Linked DNA regions of Homo sapiens. The protein of the gene in region 1 purifies or fractionates together with the protein of each later gene. This does not show direct contact. Each region holds a gene or a part of one and is shown in the gene's direction. Other genes may lie near its edges.

The links. The genes of interacting proteins can lie anywhere in the genome.
Region 2: the proteins of NFIB (region 1) and PRDM1 purify together in Homo sapiens (co-immunoprecipitation; one large-scale study listed by IntAct). This does not show direct contact.

The regions. Positions count from the first base shown.
Region 1 is NC_000009.12:14,114,992-14,118,644, reverse strand, and holds part of NFIB (nuclear factor 1 B-type), read left to right. Parts: intron 1-2,298; coding exon 2,299-2,437; coding exon of another isoform or gene 2,438-2,464; intron 2,465-3,653.
Region 2 is NC_000006.12:106,092,816-106,096,468, forward strand, and holds part of PRDM1 (PR domain zinc finger protein 1), read left to right. Parts: intron 1-2,799; coding exon 2,800-2,919; intron 2,920-3,653. UniProt on the Homo sapiens protein: Transcription factor that mediates a transcriptional program in various innate and adaptive immune tissue-resident lymphocyte T cell types such as tissue-resident memory T (Trm), natural killer (trNK) and natural killer T (NKT) cells and negatively regulates gene expression of proteins that promote the egress of tissue-resident T-cell populations from non-lymphoid organs.

The DNA.
Region 1 (3,653 bases):
ATCTACAGTATGAAAGTTCATCTATTAACAGCCTTAAAAGATAGAAATTTTTAGTGTAGCTTCATCTGTTTGAACCAGTAGAAAACTGAGGAGAAAATAGCCCTCAATTCTTCTCACCCTGAGTTTTAGGAAAGTTGTCTGCATTGACTTGGGAATTCTTTCTTTGTCACCTTTATTCTTTTCAAATGAGAGAAGTGTCTACTAGTTCATGTTGTTCAATTCCAGTAGGTGAAGTTTGTAGAATGGTCAGGGTAGGATAATATATTTGGTGGCAGCATTTCCTTGAAATTATTGTCATTCTGCTCCAGACATTTTGTTCCAGGTAGGTACTTTCAGACTGTTTTGGTGAACACTGTATGTAGAAACATTTTTACCATTGAATGTACCACCAATGATAAAATGAGACCTGTCTTCTTTCTTAAGATATTTAAAGCACTTATTTCCAGTGTTCAGATAACCAGAAATGGATGGCCTGCTGTAGAAACAAACTACTTTTTCCCTTTGAAAGGAAAAATGGGTCTTTATAGTTAACTGCAGATTTTTTTTTTAAGGAACAGTGTATCTGCTTTGATTTTTAACTCCAACTCAAAACCAATTAATTTGCATTTCAAATTAGAATTCTTGGTATTTACCATTTTAGCTTTAGAAATGGAAAAACATCAGTATTCCTTCACCATTCACTTCTAGTCAGCTGTTGCTTCCCAATATTCTCCAGCACTGCACTGATTTTGATTTTTAAGATAAGCAACTGAGATGCCTTTTCCTCCCCACAGCAATTTTGAGATTAATTGCATTACTGCTGCACCAATTATAGTGAGACAGTCATGCTATTCAATGGAATATTTTGAATAAAATTAGTTTAAAGATGTAACTCTCCCATAGGTTTCCATATTGGAAAACTCTGGTCAATTTTCCTGACATCAAGTTAAATACTTAAAATTACCCATGATGAATAATCAGGATATTCAGGAAGTCCATTTTCTTTATAGAATAAATAATGTGGCCTCTGAGGAGCCTAACCGAAGACTTAGTTCATGTCTCTAAGTCACAATATTTAAGTGTTATTAGCTGTTCATCTTTTTCTCTAAATAAATGTCTACTTGTAATTTATGTGCAGATATTTAGAAAAATATTCTGCTTCATTTTTTTTTTGCCTTTAACAGTTCAGATTATAAAGACTATATACTTGCCGAGAATAGCCTCCCAGCAAATTGCGATGAACACCGTGCAGTGGAGAATTCCAACATGGGTATAATCAAAAATAACATTCTCAGTCTAGAAAAATATATTCCACTATTTCTTCAAAGAGTGTATCCTTAGGATTTTGTTTCCTACCACGGAAACTATTTTTGTACCCAGGAGCTAAAACTCAGATAGTAACATCTTTTCTATCATTGCCCAGGGGATTTTCTCAGTTAATTCTCACAAATGTCAACAAGAAATGTTTTGTGTAACTCTCCATGCACCACCATGGATGTAAGAGTAACTCAAATAACAATGCTCATTTGCTTGTCCTCTGCTTCCCCTCAGTACAGTTTAATTTACTTTGGAAATCTTTTATTTGTAGGTGTAAGGACAAACGTAGCTCAGCATTTTATATCATTGTATGACCTCTGAAATTTTAGATGCTTTACATCTTATTCTATCTTCTTGTATTAGTAAATCATCAAAAGTTGACCATAGATCTCGGAATCTAAATTGCCTAATGTGTGCATCTCAGCACACCTGTGTGTAAGAGAGCTAGAGTTTTGTATGCAGGAGAATGGTTCTTGACTGTAAATGATGAAAATTCCAGAATTCGTTGTATTTGATCTCCTAGATATTTTTGTGTCCTTTGTTTCAGTGATATCATCATGTAGGTGAAAATTGTGTTCTAAAAGCCAAAACTGACTCATTATAGAAAATGAAGAGCAGAGAATAAGGAAGCATTGGGTTCCAACTGTAGCTAGTTCAGTAAGGAATTCCATTTTAGCCTTTGGGCTAAGCATTTAAGTCTGCACTTGAGTTTCTTGGCCTACTACATGAAAGGATCAAGTCTACCTGGCTCTCAGGGGTGCTGTAAAGAGGAATTCACCTATACCATGACGTGCTTTGAAGATGAAAACCTTCTTTGAAATGCTGCTGCTCCTTATTACTACCAACCATTGACTGGCCTCTCCGACTCCGACTCGAGAGGGCCTGTGTGGCGCCTATGCGCAGTGTGCTGGATCCACACAGTCGTGTGTGCTGAGTGGACTTGTTGAACAAGATGACTGCCTTTTGGATTGCTTCACCCGGCATTCTGTTTTTGTTTTGTAGCCTAACGGCAGTGGTCAAGTAGTAGGGAAAGTGCCTGGCCATTTCACTCCTGTCTTGGCACCCTCTCCCCATCCCAGTGCAGTGCGACCTGTGACCCTGAGCATGACAGATACTAAACCCATCACTACATCCACTGAAGGTGAGGCAGCTTCACCTACAGCAACCAGTAAGTATTTCCATAGGAAATGAGAAATGTCCATCAGAGGCACCATTGGATATCTGATCCAAGGTGGAAAACACGGCAATTTTTCCAGCTACCTGACCAGATGGAGATTTCTCATTTAAGTGGAGCTAGCAGGCATGGATGTGGCCCTGCTATCACAGGCTCTCTCTTCTCAAATTCCAGTCAGTGAATCATATTTGAAAAGGGAGAAGCTCACTTGTTTAAGTTAACAGCTATAACAAAAATAATAAGTCATGCCTGCTTGTTCAAGGTATACATTGAAATTGCACTGAGTAACATAACGCAGAATACAAAGTTTTCGTATCACCCAAAGAGAGATTAGGTAATTGGTACTTATTGGAGCATTCCTATAGAAATCAAGCCCCTTCACAAAGCAGATGGAATCAGTGCCTCTGTAAGGTAATTGCATGTTTACATCATTGTAGGTTATGTCATTGTTAAAAACAGTCGCATAAGGTTGGGAACAGATGAGGACATTTCAAAACTTAGTATTAGGCACATGTAAGCTACCTGTACTTTCACTATCTGCAAGCTTTTTTTTTAAAACCTTTTGATTATTTTGCTTATCATTGGTACATCAAATACTGTGCTTTTTAGTGTGGCCATAACATTTAAATGTCAGAGATTTAGCCAGTGAACCTTCCTAACACGTACCAATAAGCCGCATCATTCCTTTGTTTTTTCATGTAAAATACTTAGAAGTATAGAAGAAATTAATTTTGAGGTGGTTTCACCCAACTGTCAGCTTCTTAGTACTGGAGCTGGAATGTACAAATTGGTGAAGTAGAATGGATAAAGCTATCGAATTGGTGGAATTAGCATGCACCTCACCAATTATACAGATATCTTCAATTCAAACCTTTTTTTTTTCTTTCTTAGAGCAAGAAAATCCCCATGATCTTGAAATTTCCATGTGAATCAGAGACAATCAGAGGCATGCACCACTCATTCTTTCTCAGCCATTGGAAAGATGCTCTTTTTTTTTTATGGTTTCTGAAAGACTAGGAAGGAACCCTATAAGAAAAATGGACAATACTTTGTACAGTGAATTCAGCATTTCTTTCTCAAAATTCATGAGCCCCGTCAATTAATAAGTTCCTATAGGCTTGTAATACCCATCAGTAATTCTTAATGCTTAGAATACTTCCCTGAATGCACAGATGGATGCGAC
Region 2 (3,653 bases), on another chromosome or scaffold:
ATGTTTACTGTATATTAGAACGCTAGACTTAGAATGGATATAGGTGGTTTGTAAGTGCCTTCCAGTTTTGAAATTTTATGATTTTGTATCTTTATCTATAGGTGTGAGTTTATATGTGCCCTATAGCACTGTATGTAATTGAAATTTAAAATATTAGGGCGCTCTGTCCCTTTCCTAATGATAAGCTAATATTGAAGCTCTTTAATTTGTCTGGGGTTTGAGGATTATCATAGACCTCTCTTCTACCACAGAGCCTTCTCTTTTTAATTGTTCTCCTGTCTTGCCTGTTGAATTGAATTTGTAAGGTTAGAGATGGCAAGAGCTACTTCCGGTGCTGCTTTATAGCTTACTAGTGATGAGTCTATAGTTGTGCTCAAATAGGTATTGGGTAGCTTATGCTTTCTAGTTGACTTCTTTTTGGGCACAAGAAAATGTGTGTAAGATGGATAACTGAAAACCTAGAGGCCCATTCTGTAAAAGAATGGCAATTTGGAAGAAGAACCACGACCTCAGTGCAGTGCTCCGTTTTGGTAATCAAGCTCTGACTCCCAAGACACCATCTGTAAGAGACTATAATTTAAAACAAAGTTGATGAACCAGTTGAGTGCCTTTCTTAAAATTACTGTTGTAAAGTAGATATGTTGAAAATATCAACTGCTAATTATTGGCTCACCAACAAATGGCATGATTTGTTTTTCCTGTTTGTCATTCTAATATTATGGAATAATCACTGAAATATGAATGTTAAATGATTTGCATGTCATAGAATTCAATTCCATTAATTTTCCAAATTAATTAGATTCAATAATAATATGTCCAAAACAATGAGCCTCTGAATAAGTCTACTAAAGCTTTAAATATATATATTTATATCTCAAGACTGCTCTGAGATACTCTTGTCCCCAGTAGTTTTACTGCCAACAAATACCAATAATGACAAACGGTGATTAAAAGGGCAGATAGATGTAAATGAAGGCAGAGGAGGAGGATGAAATGAACATCTGCTTTTTTCAGCTCTCTGACAGAAATTCTTAAAGGACCAAAAATAACACTCTTGTTTCAACTTATGTTAGGTGTAGGAAAATTTTCTTTTTTTCTCTTTCCAGTCTGAGTATGCTTCATTGATTTGTATATTGAATACTAAATTGTTTTAGAAAAAAAAATCATTGGCTGATAAGACACTTAAATGAGAAAAGCTAGTCTGTCACAGGCATGTAGGTGTGCCATATCTATTTAAATAGAGGTTTAAATTATTGATGAGACTTAATGAGGAACTGGTGTATATTGTAACCAAAATTGTAGATTCCACTGTGAACAATCTGTGCATGGATCGATTCACATATTTGAGTCTACCATTTCAGGTACATGAATGTACAGGAGCTACTGGGAATATAAAAACTGGAAAATAAACATTATCATCTATTACCACTCCCTCCTCCTTGGTCCATTTTAGTAAAGAATTCAGTAAAGTGATAGGTAGGCTATCTTGAATGAGAAGAAAATAAAACTAGGAAAGTGAGAGAATAAAAACCAAAACAAAACTGTAACTGCAAACTGTTGTAAAGGACTACTCACAGAGGAGTTCTATTGAATAGTGACGAATTGCTTCCTGATTCACGGTTGGTGATTTTTTTACCCCTTCAAAGAGAAATTTATTATTAAGGAGGAACTGGTATAGTTAACATGTTTCTTTAGCAAGGCCCCACAAAGTTAAAATGTGTGATGCATCCAGTCTGAGGTCATTTCCTCAGATCTTAGAACCTACAGCTTTCCTCCGTATAAACTTAATTTCAAAGGAGGGCTTTTGGCCAGGCATGGTGGCTCAGCCTGTAATCTCAGCACTTTGGGAGGCCGAGGTGGGAGGATCGCTTGAGTCCAGGAGTTTGAGACAAGGCTGGGCAACATGGTGAGACCCCTTCTCAACAATAACAACAAAAATTAGCTGGGCGTGATGGTGCATGCCTGTAGTCCCAGCTACTCAGGAGGCTGAGGTGGGAGGATCTCTTGATCCCAGGAGGTCAAGGCTGCAATGAGCTAAGATCAAGCCACTGCATTCCAGCCTGAGTGATAGTGGGAGACCTTGTCTTTAAAACACACACACACACACACACACACACGAGGGCCTTTGACCACTCTTGAGTAGAAGACTCGAGAAGAACAAAGTAGAAGGCCAGAGAAGAACAAAGTTACTTGAAAGATCTCTTATTAAAGAGAATGTACAAGCTATGAAAAAAAAAAAACACACACACACACACAAACCTCATCTGGAATGAAAAAAACATAATGCATTTGGTTTCTGGTTCCTTAGGCTGTTATGGAACAACCAAAGAACATTATTTTGGTTTCTGAGGTCAGAACTATTTTATTCCCCTCAAGCACACTATGCTTATGGTTTGAGGGAGAATGAGAAATAGGAAACTAGGAACAGGCTGAAATGGTCTAATCTTGACCATCTAATTCTGCAGTGTCTTATTCTCATTCTAAAAGAGAATGGTTATATTCGCTGTTCTAGCATAAAAAGTAATGATAAAAATAAAAGATCCCGTATTACCAGACAATAATCCCCTAGACTGTTTTAATGCTTGGTTGAGTATTTGCTTATGATCTCAGACTTTAAAAGATGGTCTCCCCCTATGGTGAAGCTTGTTAATTATGTAGGCATCATTAATGTCTGTTTACTTATCAAAATTTTATCATTGTTAGTTGTATTACTACTTGACAGTCCAATTTATTTAATTGAAAAGATTGGTTAACATTTTATAGTCAAAGTAATTGTTTCCTGTGTTTTTTCCTGTTTAGGTTATTGGAGTGATGAGTAAAGAATACATACCAAAGGGCACACGTTTTGGACCCCTAATAGGTGAAATCTACACCAATGACACAGTTCCTAAGAACGCCAACAGGAAATATTTTTGGAGGGTAAGTAAGGGAAATTTCTTCAGACCCATTAAATGTTAGGAAAAAATGGAGCTAAAAGAGCTGGGTGGCTCACCTTTCTCATCCTGTGCTGAGAAATGCTGGGGCTCACCCATAAGTATCCAGCATCCCCATGGACACAGGGAATTCTGAACAAATGTGATGAAACCGATGAAATGTCTGGCCTGTAGGTGGTTAGTGATGGAGATACGGGCTATATGTGAATCTTGATTTTTGCAATTCATTAGAGCTTTGTAATGAAAGGAAACAGTTTGTTGCTTGCTTTAAGGATAGGTTCATTTGCATTTCTCCGCAAGGAAGTAGTAATGAGTTACCAAGCCTTAGATTTCACCCCTTTTTGATTTCTTGCTGACTTAACTTTAATTGAATGGAAGAGTTATCACAAATGAATTATCTTTTTGGTTTTTTTTTTTTTGAGATGGAGTCTCACTCTGTCACCAGGCTGGAGTGCAATGGCATGATCTCGGCTCACTGCAACCTCCGCCTCCCAGGTTCAAGCAATTGTCCTGCCTCAGCCTCCCGAGTAGCTGGGACTAAGGTGCGCGCCACCATGCCCAGTTAATTTTTGTATTTTTAGTAGAGACGGGGTTCCACTATGTTGGCCATGATGGTCTCGATCTCTGGACCTCGTGATCCGCCCACCTTGGCCTCCCAAAGTGCTGGAATTACAGGCAAGAGCCACCGCGCCCAGCCAGGAATGACAAATGAATTACCTT